Linked DNA regions of Homo sapiens. The protein of the gene in region 2 binds, or shares a complex with, the protein of the main gene of each other region. Each region holds a gene or a part of one and is shown on either strand. Other genes may lie near its edges. The genes, in order: MAGEA4, RAD18 and UBE2B. A codon is read from its position in the direction of its gene.

The links.
Region 1: the proteins of RAD18 (region 2) and MAGEA4 are in contact, whole or in part, in a crystal structure (PDB 9BD3), measured with the Homo sapiens proteins. Residues at the interface, in NP_064550.3 of Homo sapiens: Ser348, Phe350, Gln351, Leu353, Val354, Gln356, Ala357, Arg358, Lys359, Gly360, Tyr361, Lys362, Lys363, Ile364, Ala365; in NP_001011548.1 of Homo sapiens: Ser111, Val114, Asp115, Ala118, His119, Ser158, Lys160, Met161, Ile162, Ile204, Ile205, Gly208, Thr209, Met212, Glu224, Glu225, Val228, Met229, Gly230, His237, Val239, Tyr240, His290, Val291, Val294, Asn295, Arg297, Arg299.
Region 3: the proteins of RAD18 (region 2) and UBE2B are in contact, whole or in part, in a crystal structure (PDB 2YBF), measured with the Homo sapiens proteins. Residues at the interface, in NP_064550.3 of Homo sapiens: Tyr342, Arg343, Lys344, Lys345, His346, Lys347, Glu349, Phe350, Leu353, Val354, Gln356, Ala357, Arg358, Lys359, Gly360, Tyr361; in NP_003328.1 of Homo sapiens: Pro20 (codon at 7,026), Val22 (codon at 7,032), Gly23 (codon at 7,035), Val24 (codon at 7,038), Ser25 (codon at 7,041), Gly26 (codon at 7,044), Ala27 (codon at 7,047), Ser29 (codon at 7,053), Glu30 (codon at 7,056), Gln35 (codon at 7,071), Asn37 (codon at 7,077), Ala38 (codon at 7,080), Val39 (codon at 7,083), Phe41 (codon at 7,089), Gly42, Pro43, Glu44, Glu49, Asp50, Lys54, Leu55, Val56, Leu73, Ser74, Asp151, Ser152.

The regions. Positions count from the first base shown.
Region 1 is NC_000023.11:151,915,804-151,922,907, forward strand, and holds part of MAGEA4 (melanoma-associated antigen 4), read left to right. Parts: intron 1-433; exon of another isoform or gene 434-517; intron 518-1,121; exon of another isoform or gene 1,122-1,199; intron 1,200-2,484; exon of another isoform or gene 2,485-2,553; intron 2,554-3,106; exon of another isoform or gene 3,107-3,234; intron 3,235-3,789; exon of another isoform or gene 3,790-3,919; intron 3,920-6,722; exon of another isoform or gene 6,723-6,828; intron 6,829-7,104. UniProt on the Homo sapiens protein: Regulates cell proliferation through the inhibition of cell cycle arrest at the G1 phase. Also negatively regulates p53-mediated apoptosis.
Region 2 is NC_000003.12:8,960,392-8,967,572, forward strand, and holds the start of RAD18 (E3 ubiquitin-protein ligase RAD18), read right to left. Parts: upstream 3,082-7,181; 5' UTR 2,995-3,081; coding exon 2,944-2,994; intron 1-2,943. UniProt on the Homo sapiens protein: E3 ubiquitin-protein ligase involved in postreplication repair of UV-damaged DNA. Postreplication repair functions in gap-filling of a daughter strand on replication of damaged DNA.
Region 3 is NC_000005.10:134,367,371-134,374,672, forward strand, and holds the start of UBE2B (ubiquitin-conjugating enzyme E2 B), read left to right. Parts: upstream 1-4,225; coding exon 4,226-4,269; intron 4,270-7,012; coding exon 7,013-7,093; intron 7,094-7,302. UniProt on the Homo sapiens protein: E2 ubiquitin-conjugating enzyme that accepts ubiquitin from the ubiquitin-activating enzyme E1 and transfers it to a E3 ubiquitin-protein ligase. In vitro catalyzes 'Lys-11'-, as well as 'Lys-48'- and 'Lys-63'-linked polyubiquitination.

The DNA.
Region 1 (7,104 bases), on a different chromosome or scaffold from region 2:
TGGGGTGTTTAGTGTAAGACTAGTGAGGCCAGGCTCTGCCGGGCATCAATCTCAGGACCCTAAGAGAGGGCTAAGCGTACCCCACCCCTATTCCCATCCCCCACCACGTCCCCTTTCCCATTACCATTTGCACTCCCAAACCATCCACGCCCCATCCCCCACCAGCACTCCTCTCCTCTTCAACCCCCCACCTCTCTCATATCGCCATCTCCCACCCCAACAACCCGGGCCCTTGTACCAACCTCACCCCTCCCACCCCCATCCACACTGAATCACGTTCCGCTTCCGCTTTCAACCCACCCCCAAAAACCCGCCCCCTCCATCGACCTCACCCCTCCCACCCCCATCCACGCTGAATCTGATTTCCGCTTCCTCTTTCAACCCAAGAAAGCCCCAGGGGCCCGGATGTGATGCCACTGACTTGCGCATTGGGGGTTAGAGAGAAGCGAGCTGCTCTGTCTGACCAGCAGCTTGGGATTGGCGGAGGGAAGCGGGCCAGGCCCTGTGAGGAGTCAAGGTGAGACGCTGAGGGAGGACTCAGGAGGCCCCCACCCCAGATAGACGACCCCAAATAATCCCGCACCACTCCTGCTACCAGCCGTGGGCCACCCGTGGGCGGACTTCTGAGTCTGGGGCGCCCTCCACCCCACTGCGTCTGAAGTCGCATGGGACTCTGGAGTCCGAGCTTGGGGTGGTTAGTGTAAGACTAGTGAGGGCAGGCTCTACGAGGCATCAACCTCAGGACCCTAAGAGAGGGCCAAGCGTACCCCACCCCTATTTCTATCCCCCACCGCCTCCCCTTTCCCATTACTATTTGCACTCCCAAACCCATCCGCGCCCCTATCCCCCACCAGCACTCCTATCCTCAACCCCGCACCTCTCTCACACCGCCATCTCCCACCCCAAAAACTGGGGCCCCTCCACCAACCTCACCCCTCCCACCCCCATGGATGCTGAATTGGGTTGCGCTTCCGCTTTCAACCCACCCCCAAAAACCCGCCCCCTCCACCGACCTCACCCCTCCCACCCCCTTCCACGCTGAATCGGGTTTCCGCTTCCGCTTTCAACCCAAGAAAGTCCCAGGTGCCCGGATGTGATGCCACTGACTTGCGCATTGGGGGTTAGAGAGAAGCGAGCTGCTCTGACCAGCCGCTTGGGATTGGCGGAGGGAAGCGGGCCAGGCCCTGTGAGGAGTCAAGGTGAGATGCTGAGGGAGGACTCAGGAGGCCCCCACCCCAGATAGACGACCCCAAATAATCCCGCACCACTCCTGCTACCAGCCGTGGGCCACCTGTGGGCGGACTTCTGAGTCTGGGGCGCCCACCACCCCACTGCCTCTGAAGTCGCAGAGGACTCTGGAGTCAGAGCTTAGGGTGTTTAGTGTAAGACTAGTGAGGCCAGGCTCTGCCAGGCATCAATCTCAGGACCGTAAGAGAGGGCTAAGCGTACCCCACCCCTATTCCCATCCCCCATCACGTCCCCTTTCCCATTACCATTTGCACTCCTAAACCCATCCGCGCCCCCATCCCCCACCAGCACTCCTCCTCGACCCCCCACCTCTGTCATACCGCCATCTGCCACCCCAAAAACCGGGGCCCCTCCACCAACCTCACCCCTCCCACCCCCATCCACGCTGAATCGGGTTCCGCTTCCGCTTTCAACCCACTCCCAAAAACCCGCCCCCTCCACCGACCTCCCCCCCACCCCCATCCACGCTGAATCGTGTTTCCGCTTCCGCTTTCAACCCAAGAAAGCCTCAGGGGCCCGGATGTGATGCCACTGACTTGCGCATTGGGGGTTAGAGAGAAGCGAGCTGCTGTCTGACCAGCAGCTTGGGATTGGTGGAAGGAAGCAGGCCAGGCCCTGTGAGGAGTCAAGGTGAGACGCTGAGGAGGACTCAGGAGGCCACCACCCCAGATAGAAGACCCCAAATAATCCCGCACCACTCCTACCAGCCGTGGGCCACCTGTGGGCGGACTTCTGAGCTTGGGGCGCCCACCACCCCACTGCCTCTGAAGTCGCAGGGGACTCTGGAGTCAGAGCTTGGGGTGTTTAGTGTAAGACTAGTGAGGCCAGGCTCTGCCGGGCATCAATCTCAGGACCCTAAGAGAGGGCTAAGCGTACCCCACCCCTATTCCCATCCCCCACCACGTCCCCTTTCCCATTACCATTTGCACTCCTAAACCCATCCCCGCCCCCATCCCCCACCAGCACTCCTCCTCGACCCCCCACCTCTGTCATACCGCCATCTGCCACCCCAAAAACCGGGGCCCCTCCACCAACCTCACCCCTCCCACCCCCATCCACGCTGAATCGGGTTCCGCTTCCGCTTTCAACCCACTCCCAAAAACCCGCCCCCTCCACCGACCTCCCCCCCACCCCCATCCACGCTGAATCGTGTTTCCGCTTCCGCTTTCAACCCAAGAAAGCCTCAGGGGCCCGGATGTGATGCCACTGACTTGCGCATTGGGGGTTAGAGAGAAGCGAGCTGCTGTCTGACCAGCAGCTTGGGATTGGTGGAAGGAAGCAGGCCAGGCCCTGTGAGGAGTCAAGGTGAGACGCTGAGGAGGACTCAGGAGGCCACCACCCCAGATAGACGACCCCAAATAATCCCGCACCACTCCTACCTGCCGTGGGCCACCTGTGGGCGGACTTCTGAGCTTGGGGCGCCCACCACCCCACTGCCTCTGAAGTCGCATGGGACTCTGGAGTCAGAGCTTGGGGTGTTTAGTGTAAGACTAGTGAGGCCAGGCTCTGCCGGGCATCAATCTCAGGACCCTAAGAGAGGGCTAAGCGTACCCCACCCCTATTCCCATCCCCCACCACGTCCCCTTTCCCATTACCATTTGCACTCCCAAACCATCCACGCCCCATCCCCCACCAGCACTCCTCTCCTCTTCAACCCCCCACCTCTCTCATACCGCCATCTCCCACCCCAACAACCCGGGCCCTTGTACCAACCTCACCCCTCCCACCCCCATCCACACTGAATCACGTTCCGCTTCCGCTTTCAACCCACCCCCAAAAACCCGCCCCCTCCACCGACCTCACCCTTCCCACCCCCATCCACGCTGAATCTGATTTCTGGTTTCTCTTTCAACCCAAGAAAGCCCCAGGGGCCCGGATGTGATGCCACTGACTTGCGCATTCGGGGTTAGAGAGAAGCGAGCTGCTCTGTGACCAGCCGCTTGGGATTGGTGGAGGGAAGCGGGCCAGGCCCTGTGAGGAGTCAAGGTGAGACGCTGAGGGAGGACTCAGGAGGCCCCCACCCCAGATAGACGACCCCAAATAATCCCGCACCACTCCTGCTACCAGCCGTGGGCCACCCGTGGGCTGACTTCTGAGTCTGGGGCGCCCTCCACCCCACTGCGTCTGAAGTCACATGGGACTCTGGAGTCCGAGCTTGGGGTGGTTAGTGTAAGACTAGTGAGGGCAGGCTCTACGAGGCATCAACCTCAGGACCCTAAGAGAGGGCTAAGCGTACCCCACCCCCATTCCCATCCCCCACCCCCTCCCCTTTCCCATTACTATTTGCACTCCCAAACCCATCCGCGCCCCCATCCCCCACCAGGCTCCTATCCTCCTCAACCCCGCACCTCTCTCACACCACCATCTCCCACCCCAAAACCCGGGCCCCTCCACCAACCTCACCTCTCCCACCCCCATCCACACTGAATCAGGTTCTGCTTCCGCTTTCAACCCACCCCCAAAACGCGCCCCCTCCACCGACCTCACTCCTCCCACCCCCATCCACGCTGAATCGGGTTCTGCTTCCGCTTTCAACCCAAGAAAGCCGCAGGTGCCGGAATGTGATGCCACTGACTTGCGCATTGGGGGTTAGAGAAAAGCGAGCTGCTCTGTCTGACCAGCAGCTTGGGACTGGTGGAGGGAAGCGGGCCAGGCCCTGTGAGGAGTCAAGGTGAGACGCTGAGGGAGGACTCAGGAGGCCCCCACCGCAGATAGACAATCCCAAATAATCCCGAACCACTCATGCTCCCAGCCCTGGGCCACTCGTGGGGGGACTTCTGAGTCTGGGGCGCCCACCACCCCACTGCCTCTGAAGTCGCACGGGACTCTGCAGTCAGAGCTTGGGGTGATCAGTGCAAGACTGGTGAGGGCAGGCTCTGCCAGGCATCAACCTCAGGACTGTAAGAGAGGGCCGAGGGTCCCCCACCCCCATTCCCATCCCCCTTCCCATTCCCATCCACACTCCCAACCCCATCTACACCCTATCCCCCACCAGCACCCCTATCCTCCCCAAACCCCCACTACCCTTATGTCCTCATCCCCCACCCCAACACCACTATCCCCATCCAGGTTGAATCGCATTCCGTTTCTGCTTTCAACCCAGGGAAGCTCCAGGTTCCTGGATGTGATGCCAGTGACTTGTGCATTGGGGGTTAGAGAGACGCTAGCTTCTCAGTCTGACAGGCAGCTTGGGATTGGCAGAGGGAAGCCGGTCCAGGCTCTGTGAGGTGGCATAGTGAGAAGCTGAGGGAGAAGTCGGGAGGCCCTCTCCACCCCAGATAGACGACCCCAAATAATCCGGCACCCCTCCTGCTTCCAGTCCTGGGCCACCCGTGGGCGGACTTCTGAGTCTGGGACGCCCACCACCCCACTGCCGCTGAAGCCGCAGGGGACTATGGAGTCAGAGCTTGGTGTGATCAGTGCAGGACTGGTGGGGGTAGGCTCTGCCAGGCATCAACGTCAGGACCCTAGGAGAGGGCTGAGTGTCCCCCACCCCCATTCCTATCCCCTACCCCTTTCCCATCTGCACTCCCTACCCCATCTGTACCCCCATTCCCCACCTGTGCCCCTATCCTCCCCAACCCCCCAACCAGCCTCATACCCCCCTCCCCCACCCCTACCTTCATCCCCATCAGCGCAGCATCCGGTTCCACCCCTGCTTTCAATCCAGGCAAGCCCTGGGTGGCCGGATGTGATGCCACTGACTTGTGAATTGAGGGTTAGAGAGAAGTGAGTTTCTGGGTCTGAAGGGTGGCTTGAGATCGGCAGAGGGAAGGTGGCCCAGGCTTTGTGAAGAGGCAAAGTGAGACTCTGAGGGAGGATTCAGGAAACCCCTATCCCTGATAGAGGGTCCCAGCCCTGGACTACCCCGCGGAGGCTGACTTCTCAGACTGGGCTGCTCCCCACCTCCGCCCCCTTCGCAACGCGTTTGTTTAAGCCACAGGGGACTCTGGAGTCAGAGGTTGGTGTGATCAGGGAAGGGCTGGTTAGGAGAGGGCATGGCCCAGGCCCTGCCAGGAATCAAAGTCAGAAACCTGAGAGGGAACTGAGGTCCCCCAAGATCCTAGTCTAACCCCCACTCCCACAAATCCGCTGCCATTTCGCTGCTCCATTTCCCATTCCTTGCCCTCCACCCTCACCAGGCAGAATCCAGTTCCCCTTCTGCTATCAATCCAGGGAAACCCCAGGCTTGGTGCTGGGATGTTTTTTGGGGGTCAGAGAATCAAGGGCATAGTCCTGAGGGGCCAGTTGAGATCGGCTGAGGGGAGCGGGCCCAAGCTCTGTGGCGAGGCAAGGTGAGACTCTGAGGAAGGACTGAGGAGGCCCCCACCCAAGATAGAGGAACCCAAATAATCCAGCGCAGCTCCTGCTGCCAGTCCTGGACCACCCGGGGGAAGACTTCTCAGGCTAGGCCATCCCAGCTCCCACTGCCACTAAAGCTACAGGGGACTCTAGAGTCAAGAGCTTGGTGTGCCCAAGGCAGGGCCCAGGCTCTGCCTGGCATCGGGGTCAGGACCTTGAGAGGGAACTGAGGGCGCTACACCCCCACCCCATCCGCATTCCAACATGCCCAGCCCCATCCCCAACTCCGTTTTGCAGAATCCATTTTTTCCCCTGCAGTCAACCCCGGGAAGACCTGGGAATGGTCAGGCACTCGGATCTTGACATCCACATCGAGGGCTGAAGGAGGGAGAGGGTTTGGTATCATGAGCAGAGCCTCAGGGTAGCAGAGGGAGGACCCTGGCCCTCCTGGGAGATGAGGAAGGCCTCAGGAGACCCAGCACCCCAAGGCAGGGAGCCCACCCCACCCCGTCTGAGAATGAGGTGCCTCCTCTTTTAGCCTCAGGAATCCAAGGGATGGCAACTCAGGTCAGCAGAGGGGTGGGTTCCAAGCCCTTCCAGGATCAAGGAAAGGAAGACGAGGGAGGATTCAGGGGGCCTTGCATTCCAGATCAGTGGAGACCTGGGCCCTGGGAGGTCCTGGGCAAGGTAGCCACCTGTAGCTCATACTTCCTGCATCTTCGAGGTCACAGAGAGGAGAGGGCTATGGTCTGAGGGGTGGTACTTCAGGTCCGCAGAGGGAGGAGTCCCAGGATCTACAGGACCCAAGGTGTGCCACACTTCACGAGGAATGGGGATACCTGTGGCTCAGAAAGACGGGACCCCACAGAGTCTGGCTGTCCCCTGTTCTTAGCTCAGGGGGGACCAGAGGAGGGATGGCCCTATGTGCCAATTTCACTTGTTCCACAGGCAGGAAGTTGGGGAACCTTCAGGGAGATGAGGTTTTGGAGTAAAGGGGCAATGTTTGCTCATCTCAGGGGGTTGGGGGTTGAGGAAGGGCAGGCCCTGTCAGGAGCAAACATGAGTACCCCACAGGAGGCCATCAGAACCCTCACCCCAGAACCAAAGGGGTCAGCCCTGGGCACCCCACACAGGGGTGACAGGATGTGGCTCCTTCTCATTTCTGATTCCAGATCTCAGTGAGGTGAGGACCTTGTTCTCAGAGGGTGACTCAGGTCACCACAGGGACCCCCATCTGGTCTACAGACACAGTGGTCCCAGGATCTGCCAAGAGTCCTGGTGAGGAATGTGAGGGAGGATTGAGGGTACCACAGGGCCAGAACGCAGATGATGACCCCACAGAAATCAGCCCTGCTCCTGTTGTCACCCCAGAGAGCATGGGCTTGGCTTTCTGCTGAGGTCCCTCTCTTATCCTGGGATCACTGGTGTCACGGAGTGGGAGGCCTTGGTCTGAGGGGGCTGCACCCAGGTCAGTAGAGGGAGGGTCCCAGGCTCTGCCAGGAGTTGAGGTGAGGACCAAGCAGGCTCCGCATCCAGGACACATGGGTTCCAATG
Region 2 (7,181 bases):
CAGGGCCAGGAACATGGTAAGAAGGAGACTTTTACTTTTTATTTTATGTGTATTTTGAACCATGTGAACCTATTACCTGAATTTTAAAAATGTAAACAAAAAAGGACTAATGTCGCTAATGGTCCATATGATGAAATATTATGCAGCCATTAAAAAACATGCTTTCAAAGAATAATTAATGCCCTAGGAAAATAAAAATCAGAAAACAAACCTATGCCAATAATACATAATAATAACAACTCTGTAGTTTAATCTTCATAGCAATCTTATGAAGTCCACAGCATCAGTATCCCAATTTTAAAAATAAAGTCTACAGAGTTCCTAAGTTGGCTGGATCAAACCCAAGAAGTTGACTCCACAGTGATCCCAAATTTTAAATGCACAAAAACCAAAGGAAAATAAGGTAAAATGTTAAACACTGGTTCTCTGGGTGGTAGAATTATGGATGGTTTTATTTTTCTCCTTTATCTTATTCTGAATTTTAATTTTTTTCTACCGTGTACACATATTACATTTACAATATGCCAAAAACAGTAAATTTTTGTTAAAGTAAAACCAGGGAAATAATAAAATGCCAAAATCTTCCATTATTGTGGATGGTAAGCTGTCACAGACACAAAAATCTAAAGGGTTATGTTCAAGATCAATTAAGAGCAGAGGCAGGCCCAGAAGCCAGAACCAGTCTATTATATCACACTTTCTTATCTATGCCATCCTCTTCTGGTGGAGGAATGATTCTGAAAGATCTGCAGAGCACAATTGTGGAAGTTGACACTACATCAGATGAGCCATTTCTGGTTCAAATTTCTTGTCATGTCACTCCAAGACAGTAACATGCATATCACATGCGCCTCAACCAACTAAACAAAAAATGATGCCTGAATAGAGAGTGGTCAGCAGACTCCCCAAAATTTCTTTAGTTTAGAGAGAGAGAAAGTGAAAGGGAGAAGTAGAAAATGGGTGGAAAAACGTAATAATTACAAAAATACTCTTAAGTTTTTGGGGTTACAGATCCCTTTGAAAAATGGATGACAACTATGGACTCTCTGCTCAGAAAAACATACATGCAAAAATTTTACAAATAACTTGAGACTCCAAAGTCTTTCTGTGAATCCTAAGTTAGCAACCATGGATTCTGAGTCAGACTTCTATTCAATAAAAGAAGTAACTTCAGTCAGATCTGCTTCTGGGATCTGATAGTTCTTTGTGCCTGGAAGAGTTCAAGCAAAAATTAGGTGAGAAATTGGCAGATGTGTTATAAAGGAGATTAAAATACTGAAAGGGGCTGGTTTTCTAACCTTAAGATTCCATGATTCCAATGTGAGCAAAAAAATACGGGCTCAATCAACTCTCTGGTTGAACACTCACTGAACGCTCTGTGGTGCCAAACTCTACATTCAGTGCTGTGGTGAGATACCAAAGTCAGAGAAGACATGGAACCCGCCTCTAAAGAACACTGAAATTGTGGGAATATGTAAAGTGTGCTTAAATCTACAAAGCAGGAGCTTTACAGGTTACAGAGCTCTTTTACTTTCCTTATCCAAGTCAAGCTTCATGACAACAAATTAAAAGGGGAAAGAAGCACTTAACACAGTGCTAATAATAATAAAATATATTCATTGAATGCTTACTACATTCCAGATACTTTCAATCAAGCAGCAAATAATATTTGAGCACCCACTTGGTGTCAGGCACTGCAGTAAGCACAGTGAATACACAGCAGAATCTGTGCCCACATACATCAACTAATTTATTTAATCAATCCTATGAACTGTTATTTTTGTCTCTAATTTATAGTTGAAGAAATTCAGGCTCAGAGAGGTTAAGTTACTAACCGAAGGTCATACAGTCAAGAGGCAGACAGGAGATTTCACCCAGGACCACTGGAACTCAAATCTGTGCTCTTCTCCACTGCATCCTGGTGCCAAGCCCACAACTCCAAAACTACAGCTTTCCTGGATCATTTCACAATGTCAGCTTCTCATCATGCAGATATCTCAAGTCCCCAAGCACTCTAGACGTCACTGATGACAGCAGGAAGAACAAGGCCTTCTACTTACTTTAGCCTTCACTTAATTCTAAAGTCAAATTTATGAGTCAGTGGGACAGGTATTATAATCCCCAAGTCTACAAAACTGAGGGAGAAGAAGGCTATCTTAGCCACTGTGAGAAACGGAAATAATCACAGAGCAAGAAGAAACACCAAGCAACTGATCTTTATCCAGCACAGCAAAGTGCATCTGCTCTTGAGCAAATCCAGGGCCCACCACTACTGTAAATGGAAACTGGTATGCCTTGCCAAAACAGAAAGTGGCCACAAAAATAAATGTTATTTAAGTGAAATAATCAGACGCAATGCAAGATCAGCGCTGAGCCTGAGTCCTGATCTCTGTTTAAGAGACATGAGCAATTGTTAGAGAAGAGTGAAGGTGTGTTAGAGAGGAGTTGGGGCAGTATGTCAGAACAAACGAGCACTACGTTTATTGAGAATAATCAGAAGAAATGAAAGAGCCTGTAAAGGAGACTACCTGCTTGGCTACGTGATTACATACATGTTATCTGATAAAGTGTCCACCCAAAATCATGTCCGGTGTCACTGTTTAGTGCTTGACACAAAGTAAGCTTTCAGTAAAGAACAGCTGTCGATGTCATTGTTTGGAATAACTGTTTTTCTCCATGTTATTGTTGGGATTGGATCGCAGAATAGCTGGTGCCATAAGACTGCCAACCTCAGCTCACCAGGCTTGTCCTTGTCACTTATCAGAGGAGTAAACTGAGACCCAGAGCCACGCGGTCGGCTAGTGGCAGGGCAGAGCCGGATACCCGGGCCCAGTGCGACGCTCGCGCCTCATCCTTTCTCCTTAAGGCGAGGACATCCTCCTCAAAGGGAGGGACCTCCCCCCGCAGACACCCGGGAGCTCCCAAACTCCCCGAAGCACTCACCTTCATGACTGCCAGGCCCGGAGGCCACCGAGACTCGGCCAGGGAGTCCATGGTCGCTCCCGAGGATGCTGGGGGTCAGCCACCCACTAGCCTCCGGCGCTCCAACACCACTCGAAATTCCCCGCGCTACCGCATTACGTCAGCAGCCCGCGACGCGCCAGAGGCGGGCGCGGAGCCTGCCGGAAGTTGTAGTAGTATGTGGGCGGGGCGCCGCTTAAGGGCTTGTACTGCGCATGCGCCAGGCTTCTGCCGCACTTACCTTGAAGAAAGTGAATGGTTAAAAAGCGTAGAGCCAGTTGAATATTAAGAAAAGATAGCCAGGAATCAAACCAAATCCAGACCTCACCAGATCTGTCAAGGTCCAGGCTCATGACCCCCCTCCGGGTCGCCCACCCTAATCGCAGTGACTATCCGTCCTTGCTCTGAACAGAAGTTTTTATATCCATTACTTTATGTCTCCCGTATCACAACACTGGGAGGTAGATGTTATCATTGTCAGTTTACACAAGAGAAGCCTACGCCCGAAAAAGTGGATAGAGTTTCGAGTCAGATTCCAAACAGGACCTCTGGGCTTTAAATGGGAGCTGTTGCTTTTATTCATATTAAAATTTTAATGCACGGTTTTTCTTTTTCTTCGGAGAGAAGCACCATTAACTTTGGCATATAGCCTTCTAGATATTTCCTATGCAGATTGACGAAGATTCTTTGCTTGAGCAAACTTTAGTCAGGCTCCTGAACCTTCTCCTAGGCCAATCTGTGTACTTCCTGTAAAAATCCAGTTTTAGCAAAAAACCCTGCTAAATCAAGTTACCAAGAATCCCCACCTTTGATATGTGATCACTCTTGATATCTGATGTGTTCCTCATCCTCCACCATCCCCCAGTTGATGTCTGATCACCCTGGCCTCTTCAGCAAGAATCTACTGTTACCTCTGATGTTTCCTCTTAGTAATTTTTCATGCACTGCTCCCCACCCTGCTTCCTGGCTATAAATTTCCATTTGCCCATGTTGTATTCAGAGTTGAGCCCAGTTTTCACCAATTGCAAGACACAGTTCCAGTGGTCTCTATACCTACTTGAATTGTCCTGATTAAGTCTTCCTTATTGTGCTTTAACAAGTATCATTGAACAATTTTTTTCTTAAACGAGATATAAATATAGATACTTTTTTTCATACATGTTATATTAAATGCATGAGGAATGGAGGTTTACGGTGTCCACCCCCGCCCCCCACTTTGTATCAGCCAATCATAGAACGGCATGCAAATGAACGCAAATGAATGCCAGGCTGAGCTGGAAAATGTCGGATAGTTCTGGATGTGGAGGAAGTGGGGTCTTGGAGAGACAAAGGAAAAGCATTTAAGACCAGGTCCGTGGCCTGAGTGAACCAGTAATTGTTTTTTTCACACTACTAGTTGGACAAGGTAATTAGGTTTAAGGTGACAAATGGCTGGGAAGGTGAGAGAGGAAGAGAGAGGAGATGAGAAAAAAGAGAAAGAATGGGTAAGGAGAAAGGGAGAGAGAGAAAAGACAGGGACAGGAATGTACTTTTTGCATTCAACCATGGAGACAGATTTGGAAGGAGGCAGTACTTGTTAGTCCTGGGGCCAAAATACATTTCCCTATCTATGGAGAGCCTCCAGGACAGGATGCGGTGCCATTCATCTCTGAGTGTCTGCCAATAGCTGGTGGGTGAGGCTGAATGAATGGATGAATCACCGACTAAGCCCACATTCCCATAAATCTTTTCCTCCCAGGCTGAGCATTTCTCTTCCTGCCATCTTCAGCAGCACCAGGGTGATAGATCCCATCAAGCCCACCTCTAGGCCCAGGAAGGAAAGTTCAAGAACAAGCGCACTTTGAGCTCAGGAAAAGGCGTTTGTCTTGGGTGTTTATCTAACCCTGGGAGCCATTCTCCTCTTAACAAGCTGCTGTTTGTATGGACTTTCTCCTTCTGTTAGATCAATAAAGAGATTGTACTTCCTTATTCAGGACTAAAAACAAAATGTTCCATGTAAAATAAAAGCAGGCTAGTGTTTAGTGGAATCTTCTGTGGCACATAGCACACAGCGAGAAGCCAGAATAGGATGGCCAGATAAAATACAAGTTGCCCAGTAAATCTGAATTTCAGATGAACCGCACACAACATTTTAGTGTAAACCTGCCCCAAATATTGCACACAACCTATTAACCAATTATTTGTTGTTTAACCAGAAATTCAAATATTTAACTGGGCATCCTGTATTTTTATTTGCCAAATCTGACAACCCTAATTAGAGAAGCATTCTCCCAACTGAGTGTGGGGCCTGCCCTGGATTAACCTGGGGATGTCCTGTGGCCCCTGAGCTCCTTTCCAGGTTCTCTTCATCCTGTTCCTCTCTGCCCAGCACTCTCTCTTCCTCTAGGCCCCATCTTCCTCATTCTAGTTATGGGAGAGGGGATATTAAAGGAGCTCCCTCCCTCCCTTTCCTTCCTTCCTTTCTTCCTCCCTTCCTTCGTTCCTTCTTTCCTTCCTTCCTTCCTTATTTTTTTTCTTCCTTCCTCCCTGCCTCCATCTCTCCCTTCCTCCATTCATTTTAACAAATGTTTATTGAGCCACTCTCCACTTGTACCAGGTGCTAGAATACAGAGGTGAGTAAGACAGATATGGCCTCTGTTCTCCAGGAGCTGGCAGCCTGGGGGTGAGCATGGAGCCAGGATAAAAAAAAAGAGAGTTTGTAAAAAAATGAGTAAGATAATTGCATAAAACAGTAACTGATGTAAAAACAATAAAAAAGGGTGATAAAATGGACAGAGGAGGGGACACTGTAAATTGTATGATCTGGGAGGCTCCCTCTGAGGAAGTGATATATGGGCAGAGACCCAACTGATAGAGAGAGGCAGCCATGCAAAGACCCAAAGACCCCAGAAGTGGAGAGTTCCATGCCTTAGTAAAAAGTTCAGATTTTAATCCATGTTAACTTGGGTAAGTTGTTGACCTCTCTGTGCCTCAATTTTCTCATCTGCAAAATGGGGATAATATTAGTATTTGCCTTGTAGGGATAATTAAAGGAGTTATTCTAGGTTTAATGCCTAGAAGGGTGCCTGGCAACTACTAAGCCCTGTGTGAGTGTCAGCTGTCATTAATATTATGTTGCTATAAGCACAGGGGGGAAGTCCTTAGAGGCTTTAGGCAGGGGTGTAATTTACATTTTCCAAAGGTCATTCTAGCTGCTGGGTGAAGAAGGGATCAAAGTGGAAAGTGTACAGTAGAAGAAGGTGACAGGGACTGAACCTTGGTGGCACAGTCCGGGTGAGGTAAAAGTGCTGTGGACCTCACACTTACTGTGGACCCCAGTTCTAGGAAGCAGGCCCTGCTGTGTCCTTGTGACCAGGCCCCTATCTTGACTCCTCCCAGACATGGACCCTGCCTTATTCTCTCCCTCCCAGCCCTGGGACAGCTAGGTCTTGTTTACACTTACAGACTGTGCCCATTACCCCGTCCACCTGCCTGTCAGACCACCATCACCTCTGGGAGCTTCTCACTGAGGCCAGCTACCTGTCTGTCACCAAAGCCTCTTCTTAGGAGGAGTCCCAACCCCTCCTATTGATCCTTCAAACAAGTGTTTGCTGAGCACCTACTATATGCCCAAGCAGAGGTGACAAGTACACTAGACAGAGGAATGCCCAGTCCAAGTCAAGGTCTGCAGATGGGAAGAGCTTTGAGATCAGACAGGAAGAACTTTTAAGGGAGGGAACTGTATTAGGACTTTTTGGTTCAAAGTGCTGAATTAGAAAGCTAACTCAAAATGGCCTAAGCAAGAAAGGCAGTGTGTTAGCTCATGTAACTGAAAAGACCTGAGGTAGGTATTCAGGTATGGCTTGATCCAGGTGGTCTCTCTTCTTCCCTCTCAATTACTCTTTCTTCTTTTTTTTTTTTTTTTTTTGAGACGGAGTCTAACTGTGTCGCCCATGCTGGAGTGCAGTGGTGTAATCTCAGCTCACTGCAACCTCTGTCTCCTGGGTTCAAGCGATTATCCTGCTTCAGCCTCCCTACTGGGACAACAGGCGTGTGCCACCATGCCCAACTAATTCTTGTGTATTTTTAGTAGAGACGGGGTTTCACCATATTGGTTAGGCTGGTCTTGAACTCCTGACCTCGTGAACTCCCAGCCTCAGCCTTCCAAAGTGCTGGGATTACAGGCGTGAGCCACCGCGCCTGGCCATAATCACTCTTTCTTAATGCCTTATATCTTCTTC
Region 3 (7,302 bases), on a different chromosome or scaffold from region 2:
TTTTTTTTTTTTTTTTTTTTTTGAGATAGTCTAGCTCTGTCGCCCAGGCTGGACTGCAGTGTCGCTGATCTTGGCTCACTGCAACCTCCTCCTTCCAGGTTTAAGTGATTTTCCTGCCTCAGCCTCCCGAGTAGCTGGGATTACAGGCGTGTGCCACCACGCCCGGATAATTTTGTATTTTTAGTAGAGACGGGGTTTCTACCATGTTGGCCAGGCTGGTCTCGAACTCCCAACATCAGGTGATCCGCCTGCCTCGGCCTCCCAAAGTGCTGGGATTACAGGCGTAAGCCACCGCCCCCGGTCAAGATGGTTCTTAAATCAAAAACTTTTCTTGAACACTTGCCATATGCCTTTTAATTTTTTCCAACTGCTAGTAATCTTTTTTAAAGAAAAAAAACCTCCCTCACCACATGTCAAACTCTAGGAAAGCAAGTAATTCGAAGAGTTCCACCATATACGAAATGATGTACAAGAGCACGGAAATAAAGAGGCCAGTGTCTAACTGCTTAAGTAGACATAGAGTTCAACTGGAATGACAGTCCCTAATGAATAACCACCATATCACTAGACCAAGTGCCTAGGGAGTGCTTTCTTTATTGAATAGGGCTTTCTTTGCTTTCTTCTATAAAATGAGTTAAATGTAAAAAAGCGAAATCTCGCTATGCTTCCGCTAAATAAGAGGAAAGGCATTATTTAATAAATCTAGTCTGGTGGGTCCCACCCAGCATGCATATTTAAATCACACCTGGAGAGCTTTTAGAAAGCATCCCAACCCCCACCTCCACACCCCTGCCCCAATGCCAGAGCACCTGATTTAATTGGGATAGCGTAAATAAATTAGTATTTTTGAAGCTTCTCAAGTTTTTTCTATGCTGCTAGGGTTTATATTGAGAGAAAGGAGAAGTGGTCATCGTTTTCATTGATCACCTAAAATATTCAGAATTGTCTTTTCTTTGAAGGTTATTCAGACGGGCGCAGTGGCTAACGCCTGTAATCCCAGCACTTTGGGAGGCCCAGGCGGGCGGATCACGAGGTCAGGAGATCGAGACCATCCTGGCTAACACGGTGAAACCCCATTTCTACTAAAAAATAGAAAAAATTAGCTGGGCGTGGTGGCGGGCGCCTGTAGTCCCAGCTACTCGGGAGGCGGAGGCAGGAGAATGGCGTGAATCCGGGAGGCGGAGCTTGCAGTGAGCGGAGATCGCACCACTACATTCCAGCCTGGGTGGCAGAGCGAGACTCCATCTCAAAAAAAAAAAAAAAAAAAAAAAGAAAGTTATTCAACCACAATATAAAATACCTTCTATAAATAAGAATGTCATAGTAAATCTTATAGTGGGCTCAAACTTGGTGTAAGCATATTATTTGTTGTGGGCTAAATATTTGCAAGGAGGCTGCGCACAGTGGCTCACACCTGTAATCCCAGGGAGGCCAAGGTGGGCAGATCACTTGAGCCCAGGAGTTCCAGACCAGCCTGGGCAAGAGGGCAAAACTCCATCTCTACAAAAAATTAGCCGGGCATGGTGGTGCACACCTGTGGTCCCAGCTACTTGGGCGTCTGAAGGAGAATTACTGGAGCCCAGAAGGTCAAGGCTGCAGTGAGCCCTGTTCACACCACTGCACTCCAACCTGGGTGACAGAGCAAAACTCTGTCTCAAAAAATAAAAAAATTTGCCCAGGACAAAGATGAACCAAACTGAGTCCCTGCCCTCAATGAACTCATAATCCAGAGCTACAGAACTGATAACAGCATACAGTTAATAGCTTTAAAATTATTCCTTCTACAAGTAGGTTATGGCAGGCCTGGTTAACAAGGACAGCCAGTGATTCTTGCTAATACACAGCTGTAAGACTTTATGATGCACATTCACTGAATCAGTTAAAAGTGTTATATCATTTTGGAAAATAATAAACTGTTTCCAAAACAATTATAAATCCCTGTAGTCTCTGAATTCCTTACCTCTATTGCCTCCAGTTCCCATCTTCAGGACTTCGTTGGTGGGTCAGGAGGACTCTGAGCACTTTTGTATCCATTCGTCAGCTCAACAGGGAAAGAGGGGGTAGGAGGAGGACCTCAGCATTGCCCTAATCTTGCCCATAGTTCCATGGAACCAGAAAGGGTTAACTTTTCCCACTTTCCTTGTACCTCCCTTTCTTCAAACCCTGAATTCTGTCTCTGCTTTCAGTGACTGCCTTGACTGATAAATTACAAGGGTTTTTTTGGTTGTTGCGGGATTTTTTTGAGGCAGGGTCTCAGTGGCATGATGATGGCTCACTGCAGCTTCAACTTCCTCGTCTCAAGCGATTCTTCTGCCTCAGCCTCCTGAGTTGCTGGGACTATTGGTGTGCGCCACCATGCCTGGCTAATTTTACTTTTTGTAGAGACAGGATCTCCTATGTTGCCCAGGCTGGTCTTCAACTCCTGGCCTCCCAAAGTATTAGGATTACAGGCATGAGCTAATGCCCCAGCTCATGAGGGATATTTTTAAGATATAGTTTCTCTTTACCATTTTTCTCCATGTAACCCTACCTGTGTGTCTTCCTCCTTTGCTATTGGAAGGGTTAGGACTGCAATGGCAGAAAGGCAAAAAAATTAAGAATATTCAGCTTTTAACTTAAAAAACACATTGCGAATGTCTAACAGGACCTATCAAGAGTTAGGCCTGGCTAACCTGATCACCAAGGCAGTCACTGGAAGCAGAGAGGGAATTCAGGGTTTGAAGAAAGAGGTACAAGGAAAGTCAGAAAAGTTAACTCTGCTTCCATGGAATCAGGGGCAAGGCTGAGGCAATGTTAAGGTCCTCATTCCACCCTCCCTTTACCTGTTGAACTGAACAGTTCCCCAAATGGATACAAAAGTACTCAGAGTCCTTAGTATAACAAAGTCCTGAAGGTAGGAATTGGAAGCAATAGAGGGAAGGACGGTGACCACAGAAAATATTCAAGGTCTTTGGGAGGTCAACACCTCTGAACCCCCTGGTGGTGGGGGGCCCTTCTGGCCCATTTGCACCTTTCTTGCTAGTGTAGAAAACCTGAAGTTATCTCAGGCTAGATATATAACCCTCACTCATGTCTGCCGGAGCTCTCCCCCAGAATATGAATCATATTTGTAGGTTTCTTTGACAACCAACCACTCATTGATATGCTTGGAAGACTGCACCCCCACATTCCTTAAAAATACAATGGTACTCCCCCACCATAGGCAAGTCCCCGGACTCTGACACATATCTTCAATTGAAAGCAGACCCAGAAAGGAAAAACTGCATAATACACCATCCTTTAATATTTGCCCAGAATTTCCAATACTAGAAACCCCACTGCAAAGCAGAAAGACTATCTGGTAGCTTCAAGGAACCATTTCAGGAGATTGTTGTGTGGGCCTCAGTATTCAAGGCTGCCTTAGAAGATCGTGCGATCCTCTCACTCTTCTTGCCCCAAGTACCAGAGTTAATAAGCCACTGAACCAACCAGAGGGGAATTATTTTTGGTCCCGGTTTAAAGAAAACAAAACAAGCTGTTGATTCTGCCATGACCTCTTGGGTAATGTTGTCTCTATACCTGTGATAAACAGAAAACAACTAATAAAGGTTTATCCCGCCCTCACCCTCTTAAACCCGCTTCACAGACCTGGCTGAAACTCACATCCAGGCGAGGCGCTCACGTGACCCGTTCTAAACGCGTCATAGGGACACGTGGTTCTAGATACTTCTCCCCCTCCCACTCAGGGGTGGATTGTTGACAAGGCCGCGGGCAGTCACGTGATCTTACATCATCCCACCTCCTTTCCCTGAAATCTCTGGCCCGGATGCGTCCCTCTTTCTCCACCCCGCCGAGCCTAAACTAGTGACGGGGAGGGAGACGGGATAGTGTTTCTGTTTCGTGGTCTTTGAATCCACAACCTCTAGTCTGAACACAGAGAACACAAATTTGTCTATTACTTCAGGAAGCCCAGGGGGAACCGCGCCCCGCTGAAGGGCTCGGGGAAGGCGCGCTCCCGCGTCCCGCCCCCTCCTCCCCCAGCACTCACACTGTGGTAGCGGCGGAGGGCGGAGGGATCCGGAGGCGGCGGAGGGAGACGTCATTGCAGGGTTGTTTGTCAGTCTCGGCGGCGGCGGCGGCGGCGGCGGCGGCGGCGATCCACAGTGATTCGGCCGCCGCGCCGGGGGGTGGGGGGGCTGCGCGGGACTTTTTTTTTTTCAGACTGACCGCGGGGCAGCTGCGGAGCATGTCGACCCCGGCCCGGAGGAGGCTCATGCGGGATTTCAAGCGGTAAGGGCCTTCACCTTCGCCTAGATGACGGCCCCTCAAAGCTGCGGGGCTGCAGGGCGTGGATCCCAGACACCTTCCCCTTTGTGACCCTCAGAGGGCCGGCTGTGGGCCCAGCGGGACTGGCGGAAGCCGGGTCCTAGCCTCGGCCCTACTCCCATAAGCTTTGCCGCTCGTTCTGGCGCCCGAAGAAATTTTGATACTGCTTCCCCTCCCCACAAAAAGTAAAACGGTGTCGATCGACTGGTCTAGGGTTCCCTGCTGCCCATTTCGGCCAGCTGCCCGGCGTCTCGCCCAGGCGATCAGACATTATCCGCCCGCCCCTGCACCCTGCGGCGCCCCCTTCTTGTCCCCTCAAAGTGAGCTCCTGCGGGAGCTTGTTCCTCTCCGGCAGCACCAGTCAGCTTTGTTTCACGGCCCCGCCGTCTTCTCCGAGGAGCCGTGTTGGGGCGAACCCCTCTCCCGACTCCTGCCAATCCTTTCCATTTGTGCCCTGAGGGTGGGGTCCAGTGCGTGAGGCCCGGAGGTTAACCCATCCCCCGAAACCCGACTCTGTCCCCGCCCGCCTGAAAGGACCTTGGGAACTGACTTAGAGATCTGGGACCTTAGAGCTGGCCACCCCGGCTGCCAGTGCTTTCTGGAACTCAGCTCTGGCTGGTGAAGAAAGCCCCTATCTATAGCCTCCCGAGTCTGGAAAAATGCCTTCCCTTAGACTGGCGCTAATCTGATACTCCCTGGGCCTCCTTTGGTAAATAAAATAGGGTTTTGTTAGGAGGTATTGGGGTTGTGAGATAGAAAATGATTATTCCGTTGTTTACCTTTTATTGGATACTTAGAGACATAGAAAAAATAAGTGAGAAAACATCATTTTGATACTCTGCACATTTTTCTTAACATTTTTTCTGGGGACACCTGCCCTAATTGAACAAAATATCTAGCATAAAAACTTAGATTTGTCGCTCAGGAAGTCACCTCTCAGCTATTATAAAGCCTATGTGAGGCACTTGGATTTGGCCAACTTATTTAATTCATTCGTAGCTTCTCTTAGCCATTTAAAGGTAGGCGTCAAGCAGTGCAGTTCTTCTAAGGCTTCTGTTCGTGGTGGCCTAATTTGCTTGAGATTGACTAAAAACCATTTTTTTAATGTGGACTAGTTGCAAATTATGATGCCCCATGAAAAACAACTGCATATGTATTTGTGTGTGTATATAATGTAGCATTTTTAATTGAGGTTACAGTCTCTGAAAGGAGATGCCCTTTTTGGTGCAAAAGTCATCTTTCTAAAGCTTGAAATCAGCGTATTTGATTAGCACTCATGACAAATTCAGATAGTAAACTAGTTCATGTCATTGTCGCCCTGGCTCCTTACTGTAATGCTCTGCTTAATTCTGAGTTGAATGCATGGCACCTTTTGTAGTTTCCAGAGATCTGCAGGTTACAAGAATTTGACTATGACGAATGTTGGAAAGCCTTGTGTTGAGTCTCCTGATCTGAGAGGTGGATTTGGTGTTAGTGCAGAGCCTTTAAAATAGGGACTGGCAGAAAACCTACTAATTACTTTTTAAAGCCATTGCTGTTTGAAGCAAAAGGAATAGAGTAAATCTGCTGCCTAATACTAGTTTCCTAGTTAAATTTAATGTGTTTTCAGTCATTTTGTGTTTACACTGAGGTTTGCTTTTTTTTTTTTTCTTGTAGCCATTTTGCAGAAGTAGCCTGGTTAGGATACACAGTCTTTGCATGTTTAGAGCAGCAAAATCAATGGTTCTGTAAAAATATTACTTGCTTTTGAGGTTTTAAACTTTTTTTGGTATAAGAGGACAGTCTATATACATCAATTCTTTTTTTTTAAATATATTTTAATTATACTTTAAGTTCTAGGGTACATGTGCACAACGTGCAGGTTTGTTACATATGTATACACATGTGCCATGTTGGTGTGCTGCACCCATTAACTCGTCACTTGCATTAGGTATATCTCCTAATGGTATCCCTCCTTTCTCCTCCCGCCCCACAACAGGCCCCTGTGTGTGATGTTCCCTTTCCTGTGTCCAAGTGTTCTCATTGTTCAATTCCCACCTATGAGTGAGAACACGTGGTGTTTGGTTTTTTGTCCTTGCGGTAGTTTGCTGAGAATGATGGTTTCCAGCTTCATCCATGTCCCTACAAAGGACATGAACTCATCCTTTTTTATGGCTGCATAGTATTCCATGGTGTATATGTGCCACATTTTCTTAGGCTAGTCTATCATTGTTGGACATTTGGGTTGGTTCCAAGTCTTTGCTATTGTGAGTAGTGCCGCAATAAACATACGTGTGCATGTGTCTTTATAGCAGCATGATTTATATTCCTTTGGGTATATACCCAGTAATGGGATGGCTGGGTCAAATGGTATTTCTAGTTCTAGATCCCTGAGGAATCGCCATACTGTCTTCCACAATGGTTGAACTAGTTTACAGTCCCACCAACAGTGTAAAAGTGTTCCTATGCATCAATTCTTGAAGAGATAATATTGAAAGAGGGATGATTCTCAAGCCCTTTCAATTTTTAGATAATTTGGAGAGGTATTTAATAAGTATATATACCTGGTTAATATATTTAAGTCATATGGTTCATTTTAGTTCACAATAACAAGGAAATGGAGTTAGTCTGTGTCTCAAAATAGATGGTATAGTGTCTGTAGGTGTTTACGTGGCCTCCTTAGTGGCCTTAATGTTCAACTTTTTAAATTACCACGCTGGATTTCCAGGTTACAAGAGGACCCACCTGTGGGTGTCAGTGGCGCACCATCTGAAAACAACATCATGCAGTGGAATGCAGTTATATTTGGGTGAGTTGAAAGGTTTAACAAATAATAGGTGTGTGCTGAATCTTTAAGAAAAGTAAACATATAACAACTGTCTAGGAAAAGAAACTGAGGTGGAATGAGAGATCTTAAGGACTAAAACTGCAAGATAAATTAGAAAAAAAAAATATTTCAATTAGAGTTTTGGCCCAGCACAGTAGTAGCTCAACGCCTGGGAGGATCGCTGGAGCCCA